Linked DNA regions of Homo sapiens. The protein of the gene in region 2 purifies or fractionates together with the protein of the main gene of each other region. This does not show direct contact. Each region holds a gene or a part of one and is shown on either strand. Other genes may lie near its edges.

Evidence for each region.
Region 1: the proteins of MEX3D (region 2) and P4HA2 purify together in Homo sapiens (co-immunoprecipitation; one large-scale study listed by IntAct). This does not show direct contact.
Region 3: the proteins of MEX3D (region 2) and ENPP6 purify together in Homo sapiens (co-immunoprecipitation; one large-scale study listed by IntAct). This does not show direct contact.
Region 4: the proteins of MEX3D (region 2) and FRMD1 purify together in Homo sapiens (co-immunoprecipitation; one large-scale study listed by IntAct). This does not show direct contact.

What each region holds. Positions count from the first base shown.
Region 1 is NC_000005.10:132,215,638-132,223,672, reverse strand, and holds part of P4HA2 (prolyl 4-hydroxylase subunit alpha-2 isoform 2 precursor), read left to right. Parts: intron 1-5,028; 5' UTR 5,029-5,046; coding exon 5,047-5,128; intron 5,129-5,754; exon of another isoform or gene 5,755-5,824; coding exon 5,825-5,921; intron 5,922-6,324; coding exon 6,325-6,476; intron 6,477-8,035. UniProt on the Homo sapiens protein: Catalyzes the post-translational formation of 4-hydroxyproline in -Xaa-Pro-Gly- sequences in collagens and other proteins.
Region 2 is NC_000019.10:1,556,918-1,564,952, forward strand, and holds part of MEX3D (RNA-binding protein MEX3D), read right to left. Parts: intron 7-8,035; coding exon 1-6.
Region 3 is NC_000004.12:184,117,684-184,125,718, forward strand, and holds part of ENPP6 (glycerophosphocholine cholinephosphodiesterase ENPP6 precursor), read right to left. Parts: intron 6,590-8,035; coding exon 6,478-6,589; intron 218-6,477; coding exon 76-217; intron 1-75. UniProt on the Homo sapiens protein: Choline-specific glycerophosphodiesterase that hydrolyzes glycerophosphocholine (GPC) and lysophosphatidylcholine (LPC) and contributes to supplying choline to the cells.
Region 4 is NC_000006.12:168,051,013-168,058,165, forward strand, and holds the end of FRMD1 (FERM domain-containing protein 1), read right to left. Parts: intron 6,712-7,153; exon of another isoform or gene 6,493-6,711; intron 6,328-6,492; coding exon 6,085-6,327; 3' UTR 2,083-6,084; downstream 1-2,082.

The DNA.
Region 1 (8,035 bases), on a different chromosome or scaffold from region 2:
CTCAGACTATGTTCCCAGGAAACAGCCTGAGACAGAGCTTAAGTACTTAATGCTTTATTGGAAGGTGTAATTGCAGGGCAGCCAGGGTGAGGGAAAACAAAAGTGAGGTGCAGGCCTGTGCGATGGCTCATGCCTATAATCCCAGCACTTTGGGAGGTCGAGATGGATGGATTGCCTGAGGTCAGGAGTTTAAGACCAGCTGGCCAATATGGTGAAACCCCATCTCTACTAAAAATACAAAAATTAGCTGGGCATGGTGGCACACACCTGTAGTCCAAGCTACTCAGGAGGCTGAGGCAGGAGAATCCCTTGAACCTGGGAAGTGGAGGTTGCATTGAGCCAATATTGTGCCACTGCACTCCAGCCTGGGCGACAGAGCGAGACTGTCTCAAAAAAACAAAAGAAAAAAGTGAGGTATAAAGGAGGATGGGAGGTGGTGTTTTAGCAAGCTGGCTACTCTGCACAGAGATGTACTTGGTTACCCTATGAGGGCCCTTTGGTAGCCACTGGGGAGGCCAGTCTGGTACTTCAACAGAGTCTGGAGATAGTGAGAGGAGCCAGAGATTCTGGCGTGGGCCTGGATAGTCTCCTCCACTGGGCTGAGGCAAAGTAAATACCCTGGGACCTGGGAGATGGGTGAGACCAAGAGGTTGCAAGGTGGGACGTAAGATGCATCCAATATAGTGGTATATGGATTTTATCCTCAAGTGTAGTTCCCTTTTGTGGGTTAGTCTCATCCAGACTGCCAAGTCTCTGCCAAGACTATGACTGAAAACCCAACTTGGCTTTTGCATGTCAGTTTTAACAGCCTTCTCTGCTACTTCATTGTCTAGTTACTGAAGCAAGACTTTGTGGTGGTGATGGTACCCAGGTGGGGAAGTGGAAGTCAACCACTATTCATGTACCAGACTGAGAAAGTATGTGGATAGATACAGATAAACATCTTGGCTTTATTAGGTTCTTCGTGAAGGAGAATATTTTTTCACATAAAGTAGTTGTTGAAGATACGAAACCTGGCATGGTGAGATGAGGCTAGAGAGGGCAGTAGGGCCTGGTCACACACTCAAAAGGACCCTTTGGGCTAAAGAGTTTGAACTTTATCTTGACGGCAGTAGAGAGCCAAAGGAGGGCTTTGATAAACCATGCTGGCTACTTTGTAGAGCAGAGGTGGGAGGAAGGCCAGATGACATGTGGAGAGGCCAGTGTAGTGGGGGCCAGGATGCCTGTAGGGGAAGTTAGGGGTGGCTCAGATCAGGGTGATGACTGAGGCTAAGGAGAGTAGGGTACCCCCCATACTTGCCTAGGGTGCCGTGGCAGCAGCTTATAGGCCTGAATGGACATCCATGTGCTTTGGTGGCAGGGTCTCCTGGAGCCTCTGGATCCTCTTAGGCTGAACACACAGGTCCTTTCAGCCCTGTTATCCTAGAGTTGGAGGCAGCGGGGAGCCGTGTCCAGTTAGGTTTTCCCCCTTCACAGAAGGCAGGCAGGTTCTTGTTCAGTGCCAAGCAAGACCAGTTTGTTCTCAGCAAGCTCATGTTCTGTCTCTAGGCTGTTAAATACATTGTTAAAACTCAGGCTGTTGCATTTGGGTTGCAGCTGGGAGCTTGGCAGAGATTCTGCCTGATGAGGTAAGGAGAGAAGCTAAGGACGCTGCTGGTTTGCAGCTGGAAACATCTTTTCATGGCCATTTGGCCAGATTGTAAATGTCTTTTCCAAAGTTCAGGTTTGGTGGGACCTCTGGTTGTATGTCTTGGAATTGCCCTGTGTTTAGAAACAGTGCCAGTCGCCTGATGGGTGAATCACTGTTGCTGGGATGTTGGCAGGTTTTGCAGGACTTTCCTGTGGGGGTCCAAACACTAGGGCTGGCAGGGCCCGTTTGGAGTCTGTTTGAGAAGGGCCTGCTTTGTTTTCTTTACATTTTAAGCATATGATAAAATAATTTTAAAAATTGCTATAGAATTTCTTGTAGAAAGATTAGAGAAACAAGCATAAAAATAAAAAGAAATTATTTCACCAAGATATAGCCAGATGTATGACTCTTTTCTTGCATCTCTCTATATACACATATACATTAATTTTTCCTTACAAAAATGGAATTATAGAGTGCATATTATTGGGGCCCACTTTTCTCACTTAACAGTATGCTTAGATCTCTTCATGTTGATATATAGTATTCATTTTTAATATACTCCATAAAAACTCATTGTATAGAAGAAATGTAAAATCTTCTATTGTTGTAGTTTCCTAATTTGAACAAGTCTGTGGTGAAGTATTTTTTGTTGTGTTCCTGGTATGGGACAGACATTGTTCTAAACTCTGGGGATGCAGCACAGATAAAACTCAGTATTGGTTTTCTGCTCAAGATGTCACTTTGTTTTTCATAAAAGTGGGTTTGACATTGTTCACCTCCAGACTTATTCCAGTTGGATTCTGAGGGTTTCTGGGAGGGCTTTTAGCAGCACTGGACACTTTGTAGGGGCACTCAGCAGGTACACATACTTTCACCTACTCTGTCTTAAGCAAGCTGTGGGCATAGTTATGAGATGGGTTGGAGGTTGGCCTTTCCCACATTGTGGGGCACAGTCCCTCTCGGATGCTGCCTCCTCCCAATCTGACTCTAATTAGAGGACTTTTTGTACAGAGCCTTTTGAGTTAAGGGGCCCAGGCTTGGGAGAAATGGGGTAGGGCTCCAGAGTACCCCTGCCAGAGATGTCAGTGTTGATGTGGTAGTCTGGGAGCTGCTGCTTGGAGGTGCCCAGCTCTCCAGGCTAGCAGAGTTAGTTATCCCCTTCTCCCACCAGAGCAAGACTTTGCAGGCTCTTGGTAGGTAAGTCATCTGTAATTACCTGTGATTCTTTGAGGCTCTGCCCAAACCCCATCTGTGATTCTTTGAGGCTCTGCCCAAACCCTATCTGTGATTCTTTGAGGCTCTGCCTCCAGGCTGAGATTCAAGAATGGGCTCAGTCTAAGCCAGATCGCACATTCCAGAGAAATCACAGCTGGTATTCATGTAATGAAGAAACCTGGCTTTCCCTGAGTGTTGTGAGGTATGAACCGTAGATGATAGGAGCAGAATGATTTGAAAGGAATGGACAGACTTCCTCCCTGGAATTTATCTGGCCTCTAAAAAGGTATGCAACTGCAACTGGAGACACACCTGGGTAGAGATGCTGGGTTCCCCACTTCCAACCATGTCTGGTTTGGAACCTGCCTGGGCCCTGTTCTCCCACCACCCCAGCTCTGAGGAGCAGTCAGCTGGTCCCTTTCTGATCACAGATACATCCTCCCAGCTCTATGTTTTCACTGTCCCCTCCCTACATACATACAGAAGGTGCTGAGCCTGAGCCAGTCAAGCCTTTTGAGGAACAAGAAACAGACACCCAATCCCTTAGGTATAAGGGGCTTGTGTAAGCAAGAGAGAAGCCTTCTGAAATCCTGGGATAGAGAAGACAGTATAGTAAGGCCTTGGAGCAGACCTGTGGCTAGAACCAGGAGGGCCTGGACTCTGCCTCAGGGCAAGCCCAGGCTTACTCACTTTCTCTTGATGACTTGCTCTCTTCTGCTGCTCTAACTCCCTAATGGACCCCTTAGCACAATACGCCCTACCCTGCAGCAGGTTCCAGGTTGGAAGATAATTGTCCTGTGTGTCTTGGGACCCCCACACCTAGACTATGACAGGAAGACTGTCAGCTCTGCAGACATTTGGCATAGGCATGAACACATGGCGCCATTCACTTATGCTTTCCTTCTGATAGAGGATCCATTTGCAGATGGGAGTTGTGGTTGGCCTTCTCTGAGCCTAACCTGGAATCTCAATGGATTAGGATTTCTTCTGAAAGAGTAAGATGAGGAATGGTGGGTGTGCTGTGTGTCTAATCAAGTATGGCGGGCAAAAAACTGATGAACTGGCATTATCTTAGACTTAGAATTCTGTCAGATAAGGCTTATGTTTTTTTGGGAAAGCATTTGTATTTCCTTTGTTTTGCTTGCTTTGTCTTAGTGAATTTCCATTTGAGCACTCCAGTGGGGTGCTCAAAAGCAGGGCAGGAAGAAGACCGGCAGAGCTGGGGTACAGATGGGTGCTAATCCTCCAGCACAGTCTAGGCTGCATGGCTGAGCTGGGAGACGGTATCGGAGGCTTCTGTTGTGGACTGAGGTTTACTGCCAGTGGGGTTTGTCTCAGGTTGTGCCTATTTCTGGGCTGATGAGAAGACAGTAGCTGGCCCCTTTCCCATGTCAGCAGCCCAGCCTGAGGTTTTGGCCATGTGTGCCATATTCATTTTTGTATCCTGAGTGCCTAGATCAGTGCCTGGCATCTGCAGGTCTTCAGTAAATATTTGTGAATGAATGGTGACGGGCCAGTGAGAACAGTGTCTGCCAAGGAGCCTTACTACAGGAAGAACACTGTCTACCTAGGAGACTGTCTCCTCTGACTGCTCTTTCTCTGGCAGGTGCAGACTGACAAGGGTTAGTTTTATTCCTCTTCTGGCTGGCCATCTGTTGTACACCTTAGTTTGGGTGTTGGTACTCTGGAGGATATTGTGTCAAATTATCTTTCTGTTATTGTCTCTCATGTACTGTTGCCTCCTTGTGGGCAGGGACTGGTTCCCCAAAACCTGGCACTGTCCTGGCATATGTGTTGGAAGGTAAGATAGAAACAAACAGCAGTCTGTGAAATAAGAAGGAGTGGGCCAGAATCTTGGACTGACAGACCATTGGAACCCGAGCTGACTGTACCCCACTGCGATTCCGCCTTCTCATGGTACAGGTGGTTGCTGGGAGTTGAGAGGATGGGCTCTCTCCGCAGGGCACGTGACTTCCCAGAGCAGGGACCAGAATTGAGCACACATCACTGGCTGCACGCTCTTTGTTCTTTCTGCTGTTTGTCCTTTTTAGCTTCTGTGTGCTAGGCCAGGATTTTGATATGTTTGATTATCTGCATATGTGTGTACATGCCTATGTGTCTCCTCACCTAAATTAGTCTTTTTCACTTTGTTGATCCAGTGATTGTCATTGAATGCCTTTCAGACACTTCCCTCTGTGACCATGAAACTCTGGGTGTCTGCATTGCTGATGGCCTGGTTTGGTGTCCTGAGCTGTGTGCAGGCCGAATTCTTCACCTCTATTGGTACGTGCCAACAGGACTGTCGTCTCCCTGACACCTTGGCTCACATGCCACGGATGTCTCTGGCTGCAGCCTGTTCTCATTTAGAGTGGGATAGCCTTAACTACTGGTTTTGGCCAGTTCTGAGGAGAGTGGAACTGGCAGAGTTGCTGTTTTCCCCTATAAGATCCCAATGATCTGGATGTTCAGGGAGCCAGATGTCTGAATTGGGTCTTTCTTCCTGGGAAGTGCAGGCTGCACTTGGGCTCTCTGGTCTTTTTGACCACCTTGCCCATGGACCAGAGAGTGGTTCTGAGCAGCAAATCCTTTGTATCCTGAGGATCAAGCTTTTCCTATCCTTCCGACCTAAAGTTCAGAGCTTTTTATCCTGTGGTGAGCCCCCAGGATATCCATGCCCCAGTGTCATGACCAGCTATGTAACAGTCGGAGAATGAGATTTAGGGCTGCTTCTTGAGTGACATCCAGTGCACTTATCTCAAACATCCCCTTGGTGCCTCTGCCTCTTTCTTCCTGAAGTTGCGAGATAGAGCCCCATGAGTGCCTAGGCCCCCTTTAACTCCAAGTCCCCATAATCCTCAGAGAGCTGACATGTTCTTATCCCAGGGGACTTGCTTCTGTGCTGGTATTCTGTGCCCCAAGGAAGGAGGCTGGACATCCCTCATCTGTTTCTCACTGGTGTCTTTCTTCTCTCCCTTGCAGGGCACATGACTGACCTGATTTATGCAGAGAAAGAGCTGGTGCAGTCTCTGAAAGAGTACATCCTTGTGGAGGAAGCCAAGCTTTCCAAGATTAAGAGGTGTCCTAAGTCCCCAACCATCCTTAGTTGGCCTTCCTTCCCTTCTGCCCCTCAAGGAACAAGGAAGCCATCCAGGGTGCCTATAAGAGGAAACCTTTGAGAGGGTGATGTGGGGCTGGCCTGGTTACTTCATGCCAGTGCTTGAGAGGAGCTAAGTACATGGGCTAAGGAGTCACTGTTTATTTTCTATTTAAGACCTTTTCCCTTACATTGGGGGTCCCAGCTGTTATCTAGATTAAGGGGCTAGAAGTATCTGTGGGGAGTTACTGTATTCATTTTTCATTGCCTCTTGATGAAAAGGGCCCCAGAACCTGGCACCAGGGAATTCTCACTAGGAAAATTGTCACAGGTCAAGACCTATGTGGGTGGACGCATTAGTCTTCCTTTTCCTCTGGTTCCACAGCTGGGCCAACAAAATGGAAGCCTTGACTAGCAAGTCAGCTGCTGATGCTGAGGGCTACCTGGCTCACCCTGTGAATGCCTACAAACTGGTGAAGCGGCTAAACACAGACTGGCCTGCGCTGGAGGACCTTGTCCTGCAGGACTCAGCTGCAGGTGAGGGACGGTGAGCAGGTGCTTGAGTGAGCCCATATGTTTGTGTGCTCATGCCTGGGTTGTTGTGTCTGAGCCTGTCTTGGGTCTGGGTGTTGGTGGGCAAGTACATTGTGGAAACAGGACCCTGCTGGTCTCATGGCTCTCTCCCTTCTCTGTGGGGACCTGGAAGTTGGCTGGCCTTGGTTTTTAACATGTAATGATGTTCAGTTCTTTTTTTAGCGTCTTTTTTTTAGTGTCTGTCTTTTCTTATTTTTTGCTAATGACATTTTTCCAATTATACTTTAGTGATACATGTTTATAGAAAAGTCGGAAAACACAAAAACAAGAGAATTATAATTCTTAATCCAGTTGCCCAGTGGTGAGCATTATTAAAATTGTAGTTTTTCTACCTATGCATATACATTTAAAAAATGGAACTATACATACATACCAGGGCATGCAAACTCAGTTGCTTGGAGGGACAATGAATTTACAAGTGTCAAGTGGGCTGGATGGTGGGGCCAGGGCAAGTTGGGGAGCATAGGTCTGATCTAAATTCATTCCTATTCATATGTTTTACAAACAAAGCATATCTGTTGGTAGATTTGTGACAGAAGAAAAAATTCTGTGAATTTCTCAGCTTCTTTATATGCCATTCAATGTTCTTCTGCAACATGATTTTAATGGCTGGATGGTGATTACCTGTCAGATGGTGATAATCTGTCATACTGATAATACTGTCAAATGGGTCAAGTCATTGGATATGGGATTTTTTCTGAATTATCAGCACCTTTTTACATATTTCTTGGTGTATACTTCTGATTACTTTTTTAGGGTAAGTTCCTAGAAGTGATATTACCGATGAGAGTGTGAACTTTTTAAAAGCTTTAAACTATACTTGGTGCTTTTATTGTGATAATACTTTTTATGCCCTAATACTTTTCTGTCAATAAGAAGAGATGGTACGGTGGGCCTGGAGGTGGGCTCTCCTAACTCCTAGCCCTGGGTTTAGTCCCCTGGACTCACTGACTTTTTTTTTTTTTTTTTTTTTTTTTGAGACTGAGTCTCACTCTGTCACCAGGCTGGAGTGTAGTGGCGGGATCTCGGCTCACTGCAACCTCTGCCTCCGGGTTCAAGCAATTCTTCTGCCTCAGCCTCCTGACTAGCTGGGACTATAGGCACATGCCACCATGCCCAGCTAATTTTTTTTTGGTATTTTTAGTAGAGACAGGGTTTCACCATGTTGGCTAGGATGTTCTTGATCTCTTGACCTCGTGATCCACCCATCTCCACCTCCCAAAGTGCTGGGATTACAGGTGTGAGCCACCATGCCCGCTGCCTTTTTTTTTTTTTTTTTTTTTTTTTTTAAAGGGACAGGGTCTCACTATATTAGCCTAGACTGGAGTGCAGTGGCTATTCACAGGTGCGATTGTAGCACACTGCAACCTTGGACTCCTGGCCTCACGTGATCCTCCTGCCTCAGCCTCCTGAGTAGCTGGGACTATAGGCACAGTGCCATTGTACCCAGCTCTTCACTGCCTCTTTTCCCTGAGCTGTGAGTGCTGATTAACTTCAGACTA
Region 2 (8,035 bases):
TGCAGCCTGTCCGGGAGGGAGGGGAAGGACAAGGTGACCCAGAGCCCCCTGCGCAGCTCAGCCCCGCTGGGCATGCAGGCTGCAGGGCCAGTGAGGGAGCCCCTACCTCCCAGCCTGTGCCCAACAACACTTTATCCTCAGACACGCCACGTCCCTTCTTCCCTCAGCCTCAGTTTCCCCTCTGGGCTCGAGTTTGGCCTAAAAGCAAGACGGCAAGGGGACCCTGTTTTAGGTTGAAAGGTGTGCGCCATAATTTATGTTCCCCTGGAACCGCAGTGTGACGGCTGGGGTGTGAATGTTTCCCCCAAGTTCACAAGCTGGACCCTAATATGCGGCGTTGACAGTATTAATTTAATACGTAGGGTCGGCTGGGCCCGTGGCTCACCCATGTAATCCCAGCACTTTGGGAGGCCGAGGCAGGTGGATCACTTGAGGTCAGGAGTTCCAAACCAGCCTGGCCAACATGGTGAAACCCTGTCTCTACTAAAAATACAAGCAATCATCCGGGTGTAGCGGCAGGCACCTGTAGTCCCAGGTACTTGGGAGGCTGAGGCAGGAGAATCACTTGAACCCAGGAGACGAAGGTTGCAGTGAGCCAAGATTGCACCACTGCACCCCAGCCTGGACGACAAAGCAAGACTCCAACTAAAAAAAAAAAAAAAGCGGGGTGCAGTGGCTCACCCCTGTAATCCCAGCACTTTGGGAGGCCAAGTTGGGTGGATCACGAGGTCAGGGGCTCAAGACCAGCCTGGCCAACATGGTGAAACCCTGTCTCTACTAAAATACAAAAAATTAGCCAGGCGTGGTGGCAGGCATCTGTAGTCCCAGGTACTCGGGAGGCTGAGGCGGAAGAATCGCTTGAACCTGGGAGGCAGAGACTGCAGTGAGCCGAGATCGCACACCATTGCACTCCAGCCTGGGTGACAGAGCGAGACTGTCTCAAAAAAAAAAAAAAAAAAAAAAAAAAAAAAAAAAAAAAGCCGCAATTAGCAAGGTGTGGTGGCGCACGCCTGTAATCCCAGCCACTGGGGAGGGCTGAGGCAGAACCGCCTGAACTCAGGAGGTGGAGGGTGCAGTGAGCCAACATCATGCCACTGCACTCCAGCCTAGCCACAGACCAAGACTCCATTTCAAAAAAAAAAAAAAAAAAAGAGCCACAGTGGCAGGGTCAGTGGCTCACACCCGTAATCCTAGTACTTCGGGAATCTGAGGCAGGAGGATCACTGGAGCCCAGGAGTTTGAGACCAGCCTGGGCAACACAGCAGGACCCCATCTCTACTACAAACAACAACAAAAAATTAGCCAGGTGTGGTGGTACACACCTGTAGTCTTAGCTACTCAGGAGGCTGAAGTGGGAGGATCACCTGAGCCCGGGAGGTGGAGGCTGCAGTGAGCTATGATCACACCACTGCACTTCAGCCTGGGTGACAGAGCAAAGCCTTGTCTCAAAAAAAGAAGGAAAAAAAAAAAAAAGACACACACACACAGAGAAGCTGGCCTTGTGGAGACACAGACAGAGACTGCAGTGATGTCTCTACAAGCCAAGGACTGGCCATAGCCCCCGGAAACTGAAGGCGCCCCCCGCCCTGCCCACACCTTGACTTGGAACTTTTATCTTACAGAAATGAGAGAGGAGACGTTTCCATGGTTTCAAGCCCCCATTGTGTCAGCCCAGAGAGCAACTGGAGACCCTCTGACACCACCTCCCGGCCCAACAGGAGGGGAAGCCGAAATTCAGATTGTGGAAACTGCCTACAATTTTCTTCCGGCCAAATGACCCTCCCTAGGCTACCAAGACCCTGGCCTAAGGGGAGCCGAGGTCTCGGCCCGACTGCAGACGCCCGCACCCTGACTCCAGATGCCTCCGAGGCATCCAGGTGGGCCCTGAGGGGCCTGCTGTGGCTTTGTTCTTGTTGGCTGGGCTGGGGGTCTGACCTGGTGAGGGACATGAGTGTCAGTGTGGGAGGCAGGGCTCTCCTCACCGATTGTGTAGGCAACCGCTGACCAGGTATGGCCTTCTTGGGGTCCCAGACATCCCTACCCCACCCCTGGGGCCTTAATGGTTTTTTTTTTTTTCTTTTCCTTTTTTGAGATTATCTCACTCTTGTTACCCAGGCTGGAGTGCAGTGGTGTGATCATAGCTCACTGCAGCCTTCAACTCCTGGGCTCAAGTGATCCTCCCACCTCAGCCTCCAGAGCTGGCACCACCATGCCCAGCTTAATTAGTTATTGAGACGGAGTTTTGCTCTTGTTGCCCAGGCTGGAGTGCAGTGGTACCATCTCGGCTCACTGCAACCTCTGCCTCCTAGGTTCAAACAATTCTCCTGCCTCAGCTTCCTGAGTAGCTGGGATTACAGGCGCCCACCACCACACCCAGCTAATTTTTTTTATTTTTAGTACAGATGGGATTGCACCATGTTGGCCAGGCTGGTCTTGAACTCCTGACCTCAGGTGATCCACCTGCCTTGGCCTCCCAAAGTGCTGGGATTACAGGCGTGAGCCACCACGCCCGGCCTATTTTTATTTTTAGTAGAGATGGGATCTCACTATATTGCCCAGGCTGGTTTCAAATTCTTGGGCTCAAGCAGTCCTCCTGCCTCGGCCTCCCAAAGTGCTGGGATGACAGGTGTGGGCCACTGCGCCCGGCCCGTGAAGGAGTTTTGAGCCACTGCTCACAACCCCTCAGGCTCTGGGGAAGCAGAGGGAGCTGCAGGGATGTTTCAATACAGTCAGAAGGTGGCTCTGAGGGGAAAACAGTGTTGCTAACTCTCCCACAGTGCAAGAGATGAAATGAGCAGGATCAGCACTTTTGACGGGGAAGAAGTCAGAAACTGCCTGGGCCAGGAAGATGGAAGGCGTGGGACCTGGAGGCTGGTGGTCCCAGGGGCTCGGTAGGGAGGACCCTGGGAGGGGTGGCGGGGGTGCACCCACTCGGAGGAGGACAGCAGTTTTCCCGCCCCAGCTGCACTGCCACCACACCTGTCCCTCCCAGTCGCAGCATTCTGTTCACCTCCATTGCACCCAGTCCCCTCCATTCTTCTGTACAGTCCGGTGTCCCCCTCCTCCAGGAAGCCCACCCTGACTGCATCGGGTTGGGCCTGCTCTTCTGAGTCTCTCCTAACATGCCTGACTCTCTGAGCTGCCTCCCTGAGGCTGGAGGATGGGGCTGGGGATTCCCTCGGCACTTGGGGGACCTTGCTATGCCTGTTTCTTCACTGTGAAAGGGGAAGGTAACAGGCCTGGCTTCACAGGCCCGGCTTCACAGGCCCTCAGAGGGCCATGACCAGGCCGTTGGCTCCTGGCAGCCACCCTGGCAGGTCTCACTGCAGCCCACAGTGTTTGCTTTAGATAGATCCTCCTTGAGGAAGGGAAACTGAGGCACAGGGAGTGGAGACCCAGCAAGGCTGGGGAAGGAGGTGCCACCCACAGATGGAGGCTCCGCTGGCCCTGCCCACAGGCAGGAAGTGAGCCTGTTCCCCATCACGCCGACCCGGCAGAGGGCAGAGCCCGCCAGCGTTGCCAGGGTGCAGCATGGGGTCCTCCCTTGCTGATCTGGGAGCCGCCCCGGGTCCCCAGAGGGTCACACGTGGGAGAGGCTGCCCCGACGTGGCCACCGCTGAGCTCACAGGCTGTGGTCACAGAAAGTCTGGTCTGGGTGAGATGACAAATTTGGGAGATGGAGGTGGCAAGGAAGGGGGCGTGTGACTGTCTGAGCAGAAACCAGGATGGTGCTGGGAGCCACGCGTGCGTCGGGGCAGGGGAGGGAACTGGCGCCTCCCCCTCCCCTTACTCCATCCTGCCCTAACCCAGACGGTGGCGCTGGGTGGAGACCTCACAGCTAGAAGGCCTCTAGGACCTCAAAGACGGAGCTGGAGCTCAATTCATTGGTGCTGCGTCTGCTTTGACACGTGCTGGCCCCCAAAACTCCACCCACATCAAGACGCCAAGGGGCCAAGGAATCGGGGCTCCAGGAGTGATCCCAGCCCACCCCTGCCCCACTGGAAATGACACAGCGAGGCTAGAGGGACAGGAAGCCTGAAGGGCGGGCTCTGGGGGACACCGAAGGTTGGCAGGCACTGAAATGCAGATTCGTGGGCCATGTCCCCAGAATTCCAACTCGGAGGGCTTGAGATGCCTGGGAATCGGGGTGACCACCCCAGAGTCTGGCCCTGACCTGTCCCACACCCCCAACCCACAGCAGCCAAGTCTCCCCCTACCAGGGCCCCACGCAGCACACACACCAGCGGGCATCACTCATCCAGCCCGTCCAGGGTCCTGGCTGCAATGACCGTGCACTACGACTTACCAATGAAACCACAAGTCCTGGTGTGGGAGCCGAGGCCACCAGCCCAGGCTGGATGGGTTTGCCATGGCAGGAAGGGGAATGTGAACCCCAGGGAGCCGCTGAGGCAACAGCAAGGACAGGATTCTAGAAGCAGGACGGGGCGAGAACAAGGCCTCACAGCCAACACTCAGTCCAACACGCAGCCGCCCCCAGCCAGGCAGCCGGGTGACGCGGGACAGCAGCATCCCAGACCTGGGCCACTATGGAAGCCAGCGGGAGCTGAGGGGTCTGGTGGGGAGGAGGGAAGCTGGTTCAGCTGTCAAACAGGGATGTCAAAACCCCCTCCCAGGCCAGGAACAGTGGCTCACACCCGTACGTAGTTCCGGCACTTTGGGAGGCCAAGGCAGGAGGATCACTTGAGGCCAGGAGTTCGAGACCAGCCTGGGCAACATAGCAAGATCCTGTCTCTATAAAGGGTGTCACCTGTCGCCCAGGCTGGAGTGCAGTCACAGCTCACTGCAGCCTTGACCTCCTGGGCTCAAGCCATCCTCTCACCTCAGCCTCCCGAGTAGCTGGGACTACAGTTATGCACCACCACCCCCGGCTAATTGTTTAAAGCTTTTCTGCAGAGACAGGGTCTTATTATGTTGCCCAGGCTGGTCTGGAACTCTTGGGCTCAGGTGATCCTCCCATCTCAGCCTCCCAAAGTGCTAGGATTACAGGTGTGAGCCACCATATCCGGCCTCTACAAAAAATTTTTAAAAATTAGCCAGGTGTGGCCGGGCACGGTGGCTCACACCTGTAATCCCAGCACTTTGGGAGGCCAAAATGGGTGGATCACGAGGTCAGGAGATCAAGACCATCCTAGCTAACACGGTGAAACCCCGTCTCTACTAAAAATACAAAAAATTAGCCGGGTGTGGTGGTGGGCGCCTGTAGTCCCAGCTACTTGGGAGGCTGAGGCAGAAGAATGGCGTGAACCTGGGAGATGGAGGTTGCAGTGAGCTGAGATCGCGCCACTGCACTCTAGCCTGGGCGACAGAGTGAGACTCCGTCTCAAAAAAAAAAAAAAATTAGCCAGGTGTGGACCGGGCACAGTGGATCACGAGGTCAGGAGTTCGAGACCAGACTGACCAACATGGTGAAACCCCATCTCCACTAAAAATACAAAAATTAGCCGGGCGTGGTGGCGGGCGCCTGTAATCCCAGTTACTCGGGAGGCTGAGGCAGGAGAATCGCTTGAACCCGGGAGGCAGAGCTTGCAGTGAGCCGAGATTGCACCACTGCACTCCAGCCTGGGCGACAGAGTGAGACTCCGCCTCAAAAGAAAAGAAAAGAAAAGAAAATTAGCTGGGTGTGTTGGTGCGCACCTGTGGTCCCAGCTACTTGGGAGGCAGAGGTGGGAGGATCGTCTGAGCCCAGGAGGTTGAGGCTGCAGTGAGCTACAATCACACCACTGCACTCAGGACAGAGCAACAGAACCAGACCCTGTCTCAAAAACAACAAAACAAAACAACAACAACAAGAAACCGCTAGGCGTGGTGACTCACACCTGTAATCCCAGCACTTTGGGAGGTGGAGGCAGGCGGATGACCTGAGGTCAGGAGTTCGAGACCGGCCTGGCCAACATGGCGAAACCCCGTCTCTACTAAAAATACAAAAATGAGCCTGGCGTGGTGGTGGCAGATACCTGTAATCCCAGCTACTCGGGAGGCTGAGGTGAAAGAACTGCTTGAACCTGGGAGGTGGAGGCTGCAGTGAGCCGAGACTGAGCCACTGTACTCCAGCCTGGGCGACAAGAGCAAGACCCTGTCTCAAAATGAAAAGAAAAAAACCTCTCGGGGAATGAAGGGAACATGTACACTGTACTAACGCCAGAACTCTCAGTTGGGTCTGCAGTGTGGAGGTTTCCTAGCAGAGCCTTTCTTCCTAGGGCTCTGCAGTGTATGGACAGGAAAACCATGGCATGGTCCCCACCAACACCCCAGCACTGTCCCCAGCTGTCGGGAAAACCTGGGGCCTGCGGGGATGGGAGGAGAAGAGGAGCCTCTGGGGCTGCAGCCAGGAACAAGGGACAGGAGGGGAGACAGTGAGCCAGGGGTCGCCCCCAGCTGAGGGGAACAACCTAAAATCACTAGCCTTAGCCTGTGCCGACAGCAGAGAGAGCGAGCCCTGAGCAGCTTCCAGTCCAGGCCCTGCCTTCAACATCACTCACTCATTCATTCATTCATTAGCCACAGAACACCTTCTGTGTACAGGCCCTGGCAAGACACTGAAGACCCAACCATGACCAAGCACCTGCCCTGGTTCCTGTCCCTGGGAACATGCAGGGGGAGAGGCTGCCACGGAGCACAGATTCACCCAGGGTGCCTGGCAAGCGGGGTGAGAAAGGAGGGTACATGTTGGGGTCTCAGCAGGAGCAGGGCCGGAGGTCCCCTAGAGCACCTTTGCTGGCCGGCTGGAGGGAGACGCCTGTGCTTTTGGGTCTCCACTTTGCCTGTCTCCCAGACAGGGCTGCCTCCCCTCACCCCCAGCCCTCAAGCTTTGGAATCTGAAATTTTCTTTGCTGACCCACCAGAGAAACTGGGTTTGAATCCCAGCCCATGATTTTTGTTTTGTTTTGGAGACAGGGTCTTGCTTTGTTGCCTAGACTGGAGAGCGGTGACAAGATCATAGCTCACTGCAGCCTCGACCGCCCAGGCTCAAGTAATCCTCCTGCCTCAGCCTCCAGAGTAGCTGGGGCTGCAGGAGTGTGCCACCATGCCTAATTTTTGTATTTTTTTTTTTGTAGAGACAGGGTTTCGCCATGTTGGCCGGGCTGGTCTCGATTCCTAGGCTCGAGGGATCCTCCTGCCTCAGCCTCTCTGAGTGCTGCTATCCCCTCAGTTTTTACCTATTCTTTACCTCTTGCAGCCTCTGCCTCCCCATCTGTGACCTGGGAGCTGCAGGACCTTTCCTGGGGCACATTATGGGCCTCAGTGAGATGGGGCAGGTCAAGTCTGGCATAGGCTTAGCACACAGTAGACCCTCAATAAAGATCTAGCCAATGGCCAGGCGCAGTGGCTCACACCTGTAGTCCCAGCACTCTGGGAGGCTGAGGTGGGTGGATCACCTGAGGTCAGGAGTGTGAGACCAGCCTGGCCAACATGGCGAAACCCCGTCTCTACTGAAAATACAAAAACCAGCTGGGCATAGTGGCACGTGCCTGTAATCCCACATACTAGGGGGGCTGAGGCAGGAGGATCGCTTGAACCTGGGAGGTGGAGCTTGCAGTGAACCGGGATCGTGCCATTGCACTCCAGCCTGGGCAACAGAGCGAGACTCCATCCCAAAAAAAAAAAAAAAAAAAGATATAGCAAATGAATGAACTGGAGCCTCCAGCAGATGGGTGGGAACTCAGAGGGTTTGAATGACCACAGTCTGCCCAGAAAGCACTCGGACCCCCTCTAGGATCAAGAGAACTGAAGCTCAGAGAACAGCACGTAGCTACTGGGGAGAGGGCTGGTGCCAGGCCTGTGTGACTCTTGTCTAGGTGGGGAGGCCGGACAGGTGCACCCTTCCTGGCCTCCAGGGAAGGGGTAACCTTGGAGCTTGGGTTTGACAGAGAAGCATGAGAAGTTCAGAGAGCCCCAGGGTGGAGAGGAAGGTGAGTAAAGGGGCAGGGCCGGGGCACAAAGGACATTGAAAGGTATGCTTGAGAACGGGGTGGGTGGGAGAAGCTGGGAGCCACAGATGGTTCTACAGTGTGGA
Region 3 (8,035 bases), on a different chromosome or scaffold from region 2:
CAGGAGTGACTGTGGAGGAGACAAACAGAGGGTGACAGAGAGAAGGCCAGGCCACGTGTCTTTGCTTCAGGTCACCTGGATCCACTTGGTCATGTACTTCAGGACAGTGTCTACAGCCTTGAGGGCATCTTTCCTCTGCGGAGATGCAGGCCCGTAGTGGTGGCCTTCCACGTCAATGCGCTCATGGTATATGGCTGCCAGGTCGGCCCGGCCACTCCTGGAGGGACAGAGGAGAGAGGCATAGGTGAGGGAGGCCCCCGCCAGCTTGCTCCCTTATCACCCCCATAGCACTCTCTGAAGGTGTTCACGCCCCCCGAAACCTTGTCCCTGGGCCAGACAAAGCCAATACCCTAAAATAAATGAGGTCAGATCTCCAAGGGAGAAGCACACACTGAACCAAGAATTGCTGGTCCTGAGCAATTCTTTGCAATCTTTGAACATAGAATTCGCAGTCTTTGAACATAGTGAAGCTTCCATAAAATCTGTCCTTTGGATAAGCCTCAGCATTTCATTGCTTTAGGTACGTGCACATTTAGCATTTCAGATGTGCCTGTTCACACAGTATGGCATCTGTTTAGGTGTCCACACTTCCAGAGTGGGCTTACATGTAGGGAAAAATCCGATTAAACTCAGTGGTGACTTACTATAGTGAGGAGTTTTCATGAATAAAGTTTACCATTGCATTAAAGTTTAACGAATGAACTAATTCTAGGTCTCTTCATGTTAGATACCTCTCCTTAGTGCAGCACTCCTGTCCTGGTTTCCTTAAGGCTATTACTCTATTCACAAACCTCCACATCATCCATTATGTGTGGCAATTTACCTGGTGGCTTTTGGTCAGGAAGCTGTCAACCCCAGATGCTGGGAATCCTGGATTTGTGATGCCTGTGATTCAGGGATTATACACATGTCTTTTGTGAAAGGATGATACGTTGACATTTCATTGACTCATTAGGACCCTATGTCTTCAAGGGCTGAGACCTCTTGCCTGTCTGGAGTTTAGCTGACACATGCTTGCTTGCCAGCTGTTTTCCACAGGGATCTGGTTTCCATCCCAGGTCAGCTCATTTGCAATGAATTGTTTGGGTGAGGAGTGACGAGTAGTCATGCCTGCCCACCTACTACTGGCCATTGACAGCTCTAAGGTCCAGGAACCATTCTAGAAGGACATGTGGCCCCCAGCACAGTCACCTGAGAGCTGCAAGGGGTTCCTAGCCCTGGGGTTTCAGGGACACCTGAGTCTCCCATCACCTTATGATTCTGTCCTGATTTCTTTGCCATGTAAAAAGTTCTTAATGTTCTTTCCATTTTTCTTACTAAAGTGGCTGACTGTTAAGAAAAATGATCCAAAACTTAGAAATAAAGCCTACAGTATGATTGCCTGTCTTCTCAGTGCCATGGTGAGCACTGTCTAATAAGCTTGCTTGAGTCACCAGACTGAACTACTGATTGGAGTTCAGACTCCGGAAACGTAGCTGTTAGCTTGTAGGAAACTGATAAGATGAAAATTATTTTTGTCTGATGGAGAAAGCAGCTCTAACATTATGGTTTGATTATCCTCTATATTATTAAGCATATCTGCATCAAACAATAATTATCACTCATCATTCTCCATCCTTCTGTTTCTTGGTGTGTGTGTGTGTGTGTGTGTGTGTGTGTGTGTGTGTGTGTGTGTGTGTGTGTCTCATTTACTCCTTATAAGCAACTTTGTCATGCTCCTGGTTCCCCTCAGCAAGAAACTATGTTGAACCTTGGCATATTCCTCATACCCAGATGTGCTGAGCATATGACAAGTCTTAATTTTGAAAATTCTCTTTTGACAGGGTCATTGGAACTAGACAAATTCGGGATCAAACTCTGGCTTCTCTTCTAACTAACCTCGAGGCCTCAGATAAATGGCAAGATTATCTCCAAGCCTCCGTTTTCCCATCTGAAAAACCTACTTGATATGGTTTGGCTGTGTCCCCACCCAAATCTCATCTTGAATTGTAGCTCCCATAGTCCCCATGTGTTGTGGGAGGGATCCAGTGGGAGGTGATTGGAGCATGGGGGCTATTCTCATGATATTGCTATTCTCATGATCGTGAGTGAGTTCCCATGAGATCTGATGGTTTTATAAAGGGATTTCCCCCCTTTTGCTTGGCACTTCTCCTTGTTGCTGCCATGTGAAGAAGGACACGTCTGCTTTCCCTTCTGCCATGATTGTAAGTTTCCTGAGGCCTCCCCAGCCCTGTAGAACTGCGAGTCAATTAAATCTCTTCCCTTTACAAATTACCCAGTCTTAGGTATGTCTTTATTAGCAGCAAGAGAACGAACTGATACACTACTCAAAGGGTAACATGGTGTATTAAACAAGCTGATGTGTATAAAGCACTTGACACATAGTAAAAGGGAGGGGAGGGGAAGAAATGCCTCCCATTTCTCTCCTCCTTCCAGGTGGCCCTAGATCGCTTTTCCTGAGTATGTGGCTGAGCAGGCATGAGGAGCCAGTCTCCTAGCCCCAGCCTGATTCCTGCTCCTTCTTCCCTGTACTCTACAGGGAGGAGGGTCCAGGCCAGGACAGGGGAGCTGGCTTCCTGGTGGCCCGTGGAAAGAGTTGTGTCATCCATTCCTTCATTAGTCCAGGCACCACTGAGGCTCTGGGATCCTGAAGGCAGTCCTTTAGAGCTGTCTTCAGTAGCCTGGAGCTTGACAAAGGACCATATCTATACACAGCCTATGGCTGTGCCCACTGTTCCGGCAGCCAAGTTGTTTCCTGACTGACACTTTTGTGAAGCTGCACAGTGAGTCTGCTCTACAAGCCTGGAAGCAGTTGTCCGGCCCACTGTGACCCCCTGCTCTCCTCCACCAACCCCATGAGCCATTCAAGGCTCATTTCAGCTTTAGCACCATGCACCTTTTCCTGCCCACTGAACCACGAATATCCTGCAAATCGGACTTCCAGAAGGATGGGAGTAAGTGATGCAGATCACAAACCCTGCTTCCTTTTCAGCCAGGAAAAAGGGCCGTGTGTGGGGGGCACTGCCTGCAGACTGCCCATGTGTGGTGGGAGGCACATGGCTCCGGTGCCTGGGCTGCAGGCTGCAGAACCCCAGGCCTTAGGATGGCCCCAAAGAGAACACTTGCAAAGAGGCGCGTCTGGACTCCCTGTCGCTGTCTCAATTTCAGGGTGTCTTAGAGGTGTGAGCTGGCAGAGATCAGGGTAGAGGACTGAGGAGTTGACCCTGGAGTGGTTCTCAGGCACCGTGTCCCCAAGGCAGGAGGCCTCCAGAGTCTGAGCCCTAAGCCGCTGTGGAAAGAGCTGGGCTCTTGCTCCACCACTGGCTGGCTTGTGAGGTCCAAGAAGTATTTAACCTTCAGAGAGCCAGTGGCCTCTTTTGTAAGGTGGGGAGAGCAATGCCTACACAATACCACGGACATGAGAACCAAGTGGGTTACTGGATATCAAGCCCATTGACACAATACTAGCCAATGGCTGTTAAAGCACTAATTCCCTTCCCTCCTCCTTTTCCCTATTCTAGAAGTTGTCCAAATTCAAAGGTAGCATTTCACAAGGATATGTCTGGGGTCAGTAATGCGTTATGAGCACTGGAAGGAATGCCTGAATCAAACTTGGGCGAGGGATTCTCTTTCCTACCACAGGCTGACATAGATCCTCTGCTGAAATGTCCCTGAGCAGACCTCTATGTTCAAGATCTTAACAGCCTCTCCTGCTTTCTGTCAAAGCCCATCTATCCTGGGTTCCATTCTCTCTGCCTCTCAAGTTAATAGCAAAGTGGATTAAAAAACACACTCTGTGAGTCTTGTAGTGACTTGGAGAAATGTGTGTGCATGTTTGGGCACTCATGTATGAAAACTCCAAGTGTTCCTCAAATTATAGTTAGGAATTTGCAGTAGAGCTGAACAGAAGTCAAGAGGTGAGCTGTGGCATTCTAGACATGCTCCTCTTTCAAGGGTCTCTGATGGACAGACCAATAAGCCTACATCTTTGCTAGACACACATACCAAGAGACTTAATGATTCCTTTGAGCCACATGATTGCATGGACAAGCTGCTACAGGCAAAGTGCTCTTGACTGGTCTAGACTGTTCTAGACTGGACATCTTCTTCACTCACCTCATTCCTGAAGGAGACAAAGGTTAGATTTCTTTCAAAGAAAAATGTTGACCCACAACTTTCAGGCCTTTATTATTCTTTGTAAGAAGGTGATGAGACATGTTCTAATAATAACACACAGGTTGGCTGAAGGAGGGGCTTCCTGTGTCTTCAGGGGAGGCCCAAGTCATCTCACTGTCTTCCACAGGCAGTATCATCCAGCCTATTATTATTCTTTTCTTTCTCACATGTCAAGAGCTTCCTAGCTTTAGAGGTAGTGGGTCTCCATCTTTCCACCTACTACCCAAAGGGGCTGTTTCTGGTGGCCCTGTTAACTTTGGCAATATGAAGACCCCATGAGACAATTACACTGACCTGGTTTCCATCCGACCCAGGCCTTCACTGCTTCCAGGGCATCATTCTTATTGCAGACCATGTGAATGCCAACCCATGGAGCTCAAGGCCATCTACATAGACCACAATTTAAATACGTGGAGCTGGGCAGTATGGTAATGCCAGGGCACATTAGGTGGCAGCCTAGCTGGGGACCCTTTCCTGGGCTTCCGGTTCTTTGTAGCCCTTTCTTCCTGGTGGAACCCAATACCTATGGTAGACACACACTCATACACCACCACCACCACCACCACCACCACCACCACCAGAACCTTCCCCATTCCTAAATATTCTCCAAGGTAAAGATGCATTTCTATAGCTTCTCTAGAGGAAACAGAGCCCAGCACTTATTCCCCGCTGCATGCTGGTGTCTCTCAGGACAGGGAAGTCTGCTTAGACTGGCCGGTGCCAACCTGCACTGGCACTGCTTAGTAGGCCAGTGCCAACCTGGGATTCTCATGGCTGTGTGCTCTGTGCTCACCCACCTGTGAATCACCGGGTGGTACAGAGTGACAATCCATCAGCTGTTAAGATAAGATGAATGCAAAAAGGATGACATTGCCAAACAGACTGTTGGGTTATTTGGAGGTATCTGTATGACAACTCTAACCCGAAATTTCATATTTGGCACAGCCATGGCCTGTGGGGATGGCTGGCATTCTGGATATGTTGGAAACAGCACTGGTTAGACATGGAGCAATGTCCAAGTGCCAGCCCCACTCATCTGCTACACGTGCTGTGCTATTCTGCTTCACTCGCACAAAACTAGACTGCAGCGCAATATACCGGCTCATCCTTGTGTGGTTCTCCAGCACTCACGGGCAATTATTTCTCCATTTCTATGTGTTTTAAACCTGTTTTCTCTCCGACCTGTCAATGAGAGCATGAACCTTTATGAACCCCACCTCCCTGGACCCTCTTGATAGGTTTCGTGGAAGTGGAATCATTCTAAGAAGCAGTGAAGGCAGGGTGCTGTTTTCTGCTTTCACAGCTCTGTGGGGGTGGCTGCTGCTCACCATGGCATCGGAAGGGCGTGGCAAGAAGAAAATCTATGATTGGTCAGCTCTGTATCTGAGGCAGTTTTAGGGACAGGCCCTTTCATGTGGCTCGTGCTAGTGCTCTGTACACTGTGCCTGGGTATGTTGGTTCTCGGATATGCCCAGCTTGAAACCAGGCTCCTTTTCTTGGGGGGATGAAGGTCCTGTCCCCAGCCTCTTTGCTCTGATTATGGTGGGTCTTCTGCCTGACGCACACAGGAAACCCATTCAGTGTCCACAGTGACCTCAAGTCCACTCCTGGAAACTCAAAAGCCCCCAGCATCTGTAACCTCTCGGTTGCTGATCTCTACTTAATGCAAACTCCCACTTGGGCTCCCATCTTGACTTCCACTTCCAGAGATTTCTGAGACTGACTTCAGGCTTTGTCCTGAACTGTCTTGATCAGTGTCCTTGACAGACTCTTGTGTGCTATACAAGAGAGCATTACTAATTCCTACATTTTTCAAATTGTGTGTCATGGTTCCATGTGGGAGGGAAAAAACAGATTTTGTGTTCTAATATACCCATGCATTTTGTACATGGGTACAAGAAGGGGGTAGGGTAGGCAATTTTCCCAAACTTATTTGACCACATATCCTTCCTTTTTGCCAAATACTGATTAGTACCTTCAGAGACACAATTGTTCACTGACTAATGCTTAGGGAAATGATGACATTTATATTGTTTCTCCGTTGTTTAACAACATAAAAAAGGAGATTCAAACCCTTAGGGATTTTCCTGCTCTCAATTCAACATTTCCAGAGATTGCCCCTGCCTGAAATCACTTGCTCACAATTACTCCCTACTAGCAGTTAACAATCACTATGCAAGACTCTCACCAACTCTCTGACATTATTTCATCTCCACAAAGCCCTCTTAATTCACTTTAGGATCCATGATCAGTCCTGGAAACAAGGAAGAAAATGGTGTGGCTAGAGTTTGGGACACTTACTTGAAGGAGTCAAGAGCATCGCTGACTGCATTGGCAAAATTGATATCCGTTGGGACATTTTTATATTCTAGGCAGTAGGTGGGTCTGACACCCAGAATCTCAACCTCACAGCCTGAGAAGGAAAAAGATGGCAAATAGTTACTCTCTTCAATAAGTAATGTCGAGTTATGAGCCTATTTCAGGAAGCAAACACCATTAGTCAAAATCAAAAATAAAAATGTTGAGTATTTTTATGAACTAAAATAACTTATTGCTAATAAGTGGTGTATTTAACTGTAATTTTGCATAACCAGAGCAGAGGTTCTCAAATGTCATTCCTATGCAACACTGGTGTCCCACATCAGAGACTGGCAAAAATTAGACCACAACTGTCTTTCCCAATTTGAAACAAAACACAATTAATCAATATACACAAATACCTCAATTGAAAATTTCTTCAATAGATTTTTCATGAATCTAAGTCTTTCATGAAAACAAAGTCTTCTAGTGTACTTTTGCCTCTTCTAGAATCAAGTATTAGGTAGCATCTGATTAGTCAGAGGATTATAAAATAAATATTTTACTATCCTGTGGCATTATACAAAAGCTAACTGGACTTAGAGGTACTCTGCCAAATTGGCAAGCTAAGAATCAGTGAGTTCAAGCAATGGGGTCTGAGCCGTACCCTTGCCTGGCCCAAAACAGAGTGAAAGAATCAAACTCATTCCGATGTGAACAGACTCAGCTTTTCTGCCCCAGACTCCTGGACAAGTAGAAGTAGTTGCTCTGCCGAGAAACACCCATCCATATTAGGGAACATAGAACAGGAGAGGGATGTGCCCACCTTGGTTTCTGCTAGTTGAGTAAATATTTATTGGGCATTTACTATGACCGAGTCACTATGTTCAGACGTACTGGAAACAGGAGTGGATCTGGTAGGGTCTCCTTCCGGGAGCATCCCAGAGTTTAGTCTAGTGGGAGGGGACACAGGAAAGTGTGTGGTATGTGAAGTCTAAAGGGAGGTGCATGCTTCCTGGGTGTTGTGGGAATCAGATGAAGGGCACTGACTTCAGGCATCACTTCCTCCTGAAAGCCTTCCTCAGGTCCCGATGTTGGGCTCAGTTTTGTAGATTTAGCCACGGCAGTGGGATGCAGGTGGGCTGGGAGGAAGTCCCAGGCAAAGACAGCAGCTTGACCAAGGGTTCAGAGAACTTCTGAGCAACACTGTATGTGTAGAGAACTGTAAGTACCATAAAATGCCAGACAATGGTGCCAGGAGACCAGATGCTGCTCTTTCTTGTAGCCCAGGGAAAATGATTTCCAAGGTGAGGTAAGTAAAAGTGGGGCAGAGGGAGCGCAGGAGGAAAGGAGGAAGGAGTCCCTGTCAGGAAGCACATCAACCCCACCCCTGGGTACATCTGCCAGCTGGTTACAGCTGATTTAAAAGATGACAGGGCAGCCTCCAGAAAGCATCCCTTCATCTGGCATACTATAGCAAGACCTGGGTGTGTCATGAGAGACCCTATTGCTTTCTGCTTGATATGTTGGATTCAGGGAGAGCAAGGGCTCCTACAATCAC
Region 4 (7,153 bases), on a different chromosome or scaffold from region 2:
GGGGGCCAGAACAATGTGGGGTGGGCGTGGCCGGACGCCAGCTGCCCCTCAGCAGGGGCTTCAGCTCCATCACAGCCATGTGGACTGTGGCTCAGCCTGGGTGGACAAGGAGGTGTATACAGTTAGCACAGCCAGAGCAAGCCAGCCCTGCCCACTGAGGTGCACAGAGCACCAATCCGCTGGCCCTCCCTCCCTCTTTCACCTGTTCTGTGCCCATTTATTGGCTGCCTCCTGTACCGGGGTCTTGCTTTGGCACCGAGGAAACTGCAGTCAAGGCCGGAGGCTCCTGCCTTGAAGATCCCAAGACCGGGATGGAGACTGATGAGCCGGATGTGTCCCAGCGTGTAATGCAGGGTGGGCTGAGTGCGCCCCCCGACGTCTGTGTGGGAATCCTCACCAGCAAGGCCATGGTGTTAGGAGGGGGTGCCTGTGGGAGCCGGTGAGGTTGTGAGGATGGAGGCTCACGGGTGGGATTAGTGCCTTTGTAAGGGGGGCCCTGGGAGCTCGCAAGCCCCTTCCGCCCTGAGAAGACGTAGCGGCCAGGGAGGGGGCCTGGACCAGGAATGGAACTGGCCGGCACCTCGATCCTGGACTTCCAGCCTCCAGAATCATGAGGAGTGGGCAGAGTGAGGCCACACGGCCTATGAAGATCTGTTGTAGTGACCAGAGGGAAGACACAGTGCAGTGGACACGCCGGGGCTGGTGTGTGTCCTGCAGCCTCTCTGGGAGCCCAGGGCACCTGCTCCCAGGAATCACATGTGAGAAGCAAAACACAAGGACAGGCTGCGGGGAGGCGGCCCCGGACCCCCACTGGATGCCTCACTTCACACACCTGCCACCGAGGGGGACAGTGCCGGCCTCCCAGACCTGCACCCCAGCCCACAGGTGGGCACTCCACCCATGCACTGTCAGGGCTGCCAAAGCCTCATGCCCTCCCACCACCTTCTGCTGGGCAGCCCCTTCCTCAGAGAACAAAGAGCATTTTGGTTTTTTTTTTGAGACAGGGTCTTGCTGCATCGCCCAGGCTGCAGTGCAGTGGCATGATCTCAGCTCACTGCAGCCTTGACCTCCTGGGCTCAAGTGATTCTCCCACCTCAGCCTCCCGAGTAGCTGGGACCACAGGCGCCACCATGCCCGGCTAATTTTATTTCTATATTTTTTGTAGAGATGGGGTTTTGCCAGGTTGCCCAGGCTGGTCTCAAACTCCTGGTCTCAAGTGATCCGCTCACCTTGGCCTCCCAAAGTGTTGAGATTACAGGTGTGAAGCACCGTGCCTGGCCATAAAGAGCATCCCGGAGGCTCCTGAGGCGCGTCCTCCTCCCAGCCCACCTCCTGCAGAGGCCCCCATTGGAGGCCGGCCTGTTCCCACTGTTACGTGTTCCCATGTCCGCTCAGGAGGGAGCCTGGCCCGCACCCCACAGGGCACACTCCTGCATCTGGCTCTGAGGACATGCTTCTTCCTCTTCTCCCACTGCGCCAGGCCCTGCCGCCGCCCCAACAGCGTGGATGTCCAGGGCTGTGGGCGGACAATGGCCCTGATGTCCAAGGACAGACAACAGAGGGTGCGGCGAACAGGTCCCCACTTGGTGACGGTGACGTCCAGTTCCTGCTGCGTGCACTGGTTTGTGACAGCAGCAGTGGCTGAATGGAGAGAACCACACCCCTGCCAGCGGGAGGCCTGGCTGGTCACCTGAGCACAGATGCCAGGGCAGAGCCAGGAGGGGACTCAGGATGAACACTGCCACCCTGGGGCGGCTGGAGAACCAGGCATGGGCCGGCGGCGAGCCGGGAGGGAGCCCCAGCCTGTGCCCAGTGGCCCGGGGGCCTCATCCGTAGCCAGGGGATGTGAGCAGGGAATGGCAGCCGCTGTGTGACCCAAGGTTCTGAGATCAGAGGAGTCCTCACCCTGGGCCCCGTTTTGAGGCCTGAAACTTCCATGGTTAGATGGTGATGGGGAGCCCTCCTTCAGGGCAAAAGATAAGATTACAAATTCTAAAGTATGAAAATAAATCTAAATACAGAAACATTAAAAAACCACCACATCACAAAGTTTAAAAAGCTGAAAAACACAGTAACACAATATTTGGTGACGGTTTTATTGGTGAGCTGCCTGTGATTAATAAACAATTAACCCGCGCCATTTTCCCCACTGCGTGTTCACCTCTTCACGCGCCTTTGTAGAATACCAGCTTTCTCCCGGCAGGGCTGCCCCGGATTTGTTTTCTAACCTTGGCACCTGGAAGGCAGCCTCCCCATCACAGCTCGCCGCCGTGAGAACGGTCATGGGCCCGGCTGCAGGACCGGCATTGCCTACCACGTCCAGCCTCCCACTGCCAGCTCTGTTTCTCTTCCAGTCCCCACACCTCCCAGGTTGGGAGTACATGTCCGCCTCACCAGGTGACCTCTGGCCCTGGCCATCCTGTCCTGAGACTCCCTGCTGCTCCTACAGGTAGAGACGACATGACTGGGAACCCCGAAACGTCTCCCAGCAGACCGAGCCAAGTGTGTGTCCAGTTCAGCCTCCCCTACGCGGGCCCCACACACCCACAGGGCCCTCAGTGCCCCTCAAGGCGAAAGGAGCGTGACGGATGAACCCTGAGTGGAAGGGGCCGCCTGTCCCAAACACGGACGGCTTTTTCTGCAAGTTTTACAAACTGATAAACCTTTGTGAATGCACTCGCAGGGCCGCAGAGCTCAGCTTTCCCCGTGGCTCTGGCACATTTCCCCCGCCTGGGGAACCCAGAGTCCATGGGCCACGACGGGCTGATGCTCGGCTTGGGAACCACCTCTCCTGTGAGATCCCAGACACACAGGCAGTTGCTGGCTGCCCCGGGCCTCCCAGATGGGCACCTGAGGACCCCGGCCTCCTCCTCCTGCTTGGGGTTCAGCCCAAGAGCAGAGCTTCTCAGGCCGTCAATTACTGCAGATGGAGCAGGCTTTCCTGGAGGAAGGATGAGCTTTGTCTGGAATTCTCCATCTTCCGTGAGGGAGGCTGGGCTGATGGCTGAGGGCCCAGAGGAGTCCATGCTTCAACACAGGCAAGAGGGAACCGGCCACACCCTGCCCAGGGCCACCCTGTCACCACTCCAGACCAACTGCCCCCAGGAGCAGGGTCTGCCGCCTCCCACACCCCACCCAGCAGGGAGAGCTGCGCCCTCAGACCCAGACCCCCGCAGCAGCAATGCAGGTTCCGGGGCCCAGCGAGACCCACAGAAGCAGACGCAGTGGGGGGCTGAGAAACCCAGCCTGAACAAGCTCTCTGGGTCGTTCTTGCGAGTCTGGACCTGCCAGCTTGACCGCTGACCTGGCCCGGGCCACAGGACTGACCACCCCAGCCGGGCTCATGCGAGGCTGTGATGCTGGAGGTCCTTGGCCTGCTCCTTGGGGGTCCACAGGGACTGGGACAGGTGGTTTTCTTTTCCTCTCCACTGACAGGGTAAGACAGGGATTGGGGACTTTACCCTGTGCCCCTCCCCCACCGGCCTGCCTCATGCCACCTGAAGGCCACAAGCCCCCCTGTACACAGCGGCTTCTGCTGTTTGCAGGCCACCCCCAGCCCTGCCCCCCACCCTCCTTCTTAGGAAACATCCCTGTCCCTACCAGTCGGTGTCCATTTTTCTGGAAAATAGCCGTATTGCCTAAAAGACCTCTGATCTCAATCTGTGCAAAAAGAAAGGTTGGCTTCCCCGACTTCCCGCAGCCCCGCTCTCTGCTGCTTTCTGTCTGGGAAGGAGCCCCCTCCCAGGATGGCCTTCTGCTTCCAGCTCCGCTCCTGCCCCTCCAGGTGTGGGTGACGTGGAAGGGGGCTGTGGGGAGGGGCGGTGAGCAAAGCTGAGGCTCAAGCCTTAGGGGAGTCTGCCCCGGCCCCGGCTGGGTGTGTCTGAGCTGGTAGCCCACATGGGCTTCATGTGGCCTGCCTGGCCGTCCCCTCTTGGGCAAGTCTCAGGGCAGCGGGCCTCTAATTGTCCTCTCCACATACCCTGAACACCAGAGATTAGAGTCTTTGGAGCAGCCCTACCCGGTAGTTAACAGGCATCTGGCATAATTCTCCATGTCTGTCCACAAGGCCCAGAGGAAGGACAGAAATAGGAATCCCCAGTGGGGCCAGAGAAGCTTCTCGGGTCAGCCAGGGGCCATGGCTGCCTCGCCTCTGCCAGGACACAAGGCGCCGGGCCAGCTTCACTGATGCTTCCACAAGTTAGGGGTGGGCTGGCCCGGCCTTTGCTGCCCCTGGGGTCTATGGCGTGTGGCGAAGGTGACTGGCAGGGGAAGCCTGGACATGGGGAGTGTGCATGTATGGATGTGTGCATGTGTGTGTGTGCATGCGTGTGCATCTGTGTGCAGATGTGTGCGTGTGTGCATGTATGTGTGTGCATGCATGTGGATGTGTGCATGTGTGCATGTAGGTCTTGGCTCAGACCCTGCTTCATGGTGGACACCACCTGCTGTGTCTCCCCAACACTGGTGTGTACCTTCCCTCATGGTCCATGGGACTGGGCTCTTGCTTCCAAGTTTCTTCAAAGGAAGAAGATAGTCATTGCCCCGGAGCGGGGCAAATCAATCATCTTGTACTAATGGGAATGGCTTTGGGAAGTGCCCACATGCTCACATCTGAGCCAGCACTAGGCGCACCTCCCCTGCCGCACAGGAATTGTGGGCAGTCTTGCCCTCGGCAGCACTGGGGCTTGTGGCCATCTACAGAACGCAGCCTTCTGTGGCCGATGCCCCTGAGTGAGTTACAGCCGGCATCTCACCAGCCCCCCAGGCAGGCTGGTCCTGGTTCAAGCAGGAGGCATCTGCTCGGGTTCTTTATTACACGTGCCTGGGGCACACACACGATTCCCTTTCACAGAAAGGAGAGGGTCCCCCTGGATGGACCCGTCAAAGAGGCGGCCTCAATGCACGCAGCCCTGCACCAGGCCATGGGGCTCAAGCTCATGCTTGTCTCCAGTGAGCTGGAGGGTGGTGTGGCGTGGTCTTCACCACACACAGACAGTGAAGGGGGCAGTGGTGTTCAGGGCACAGGGCTGAACGATTGTGGCCTCTCAGTGCTCTGGGATGGGCCTGAGACTAGCAGGGATGCACGGGCCATTCCTCTAAATGCAGAGGACAGCAGGTTTGCACGTGTGCAGGAGTGTTGTGCAGGGGGAGGAGCCCTGGGGAGACCCTACCCTGGTGGCCTTCCAGAGCCCACAGAACCGAGGTCGCACTACCCGTGGAGCCCACCGGATCAGAGCAGGTGCCATGCACAGCTAGTCCCCCACTCTCCGTCTGTCACCAAAGCTTCGCCCCTCCGCCAGCTGGGCTGCACCAGCCCAACCCCAGCCAGGGCAATGGCTTAAGGAAGCCACCTGTGAGCAGAGTGGGTCCTGAGGCCTCATGGCTGAGATGGGAGCAGAGTCGGCTTCAGCTCCGGGGCAGTGGGGTCTTTGGAAGCCCTGGCTTGGAAGGGAAAGCACAGCCATTGACTGTGGATGGTGGAGGAGGGTCTCTGGCTGGATCTCAGGTGACAGAGCTGGGCTTGCACCACAAGAGGGGCCTCTGTCTGGCAGGCCCAGCGCTTGCAAACAGGAGTTGCAGAGAGGGGTTCAGGTCTGGGAGGAACCTGGGTCCTGCACAGTGATGACTGTGAACTCCGGCTTGGGAGCTCTGGCAGCCTGTGCCCATCAGGACTGTCTCTTGGGGAGCTGACAGTGTGGGAAACTGCAGAGCTGTCTCTCCAGGGTCTGGGCCCAGCTGTGTCACCTTCTCTCCCAGATTAGGATGGGTGACAGGCTGCCTCAGGGGCCAACACCATGGCTCTCTGGACACTTGACAGCCAGACCTTGAACTGGCTCCCTGAGACCCTGAGGGAAAGAGCTCCCGGGTGTATGGCAGACAGGCATGAGGTGCGGGACCTGTTTGTTACCTCCCAGGTTGATGTCAGAGCCAGCTCCACACCTCTTACAGGTGAACCTGTGGAGCGTGCTGGCTGCGGAAGTGCAGGCAGCATCTGGCGGGCAGGAAGGGACGAGGGCCATGTGGAAGTGGGGTGGGCAGGGGCTGAGCCTGGCGGTGCGGACGGTACTGCTGGGTGGGTGGTGCCTACACCACAAACTCCTGTGGTGGAGCCTCTCCGAACAGGTCCAGGGCGAGACAGTTGCTGGACCTCTTGCTGGGGAGAGTGGCCCTGGTCTCGCAGGGGCCTGCCAGCCTGCAGTCCAGGGCGCGGTGGAAGGTATGGCTGAGTGAGGTGGGCGCTGGGTGCAGGGCCAGCTGGTGCAGCTGCATGTCGTCCAGGCCATGGCTGTGCTGCTCCTCACTGACCCCGGCTGTCATTTCCTGGATCTGCGGGGAGAGGCCATGGGATGAGGCCTGCTGCCCCCTCTCACTCCCACCACCGCACACGGCAGCCACACTGCTTGTGGCCACAGAGCCACACTCCCTGCCAATGCCCACCCTGCGCCGCAGTGCATGGCCGGCCTGCCCCTGGACGGGTCCCCCAGCACACACCTCTGCGAGAGAGGCTTGGCATCTTCCTTTGATGCATTTCAGGAGGCCCCCACCTTGCCCAGCTTCTTTCCTGGGGCTGCTTTCTGCCTTTTAACTCAGTGGACCTGGACTCTTAGCGTTTGGTGTAATTTAGGATCAGGTCTGAGTGTGGGCCTTGAACACTAGCTCTGGAAGCACCTCAGTGGTCAAGAACGGCCTCCTATTTTATACGGGAGGAAACTGTCTGGGTTCAGAGGTGACTGTCCAAGGTCCCGTCCAGGTGGGCGGCCAGCGGGCAGCGTCATCGCCCTTAAGTGAAGCCTCCAGCCCGAGCTTCTCGGCTGCCGTGGCCCCTCAGATCTGCCTTGGACCACTGTGCTCCCAGGAGGCAGATGAGGCCCCTGGTGGCAGGTGGCAGGGGCAGGGGCAGGCCACGCCGAAGATTGCCCAGCGCCAGGGTCTGACTTGCCCTTCTACGCGTGTTTCCTTGTTTTTAATCAATACGTCTTTCAAGAGTGACAGTCCCTGGCCCAGAGCTCAGGCGGCTTCGGGCAGCCGTCTCCTCCACTGAGTGGGCTGACCTGGGTTTGGGATTGCCCCCACTGGGATGGGCCCGCGCCTGCCAGGACTTGCAGCCTCCCCTCCCTCCTCCCGTGCCCAGCCCTGTTCTCTCTCCATCCAG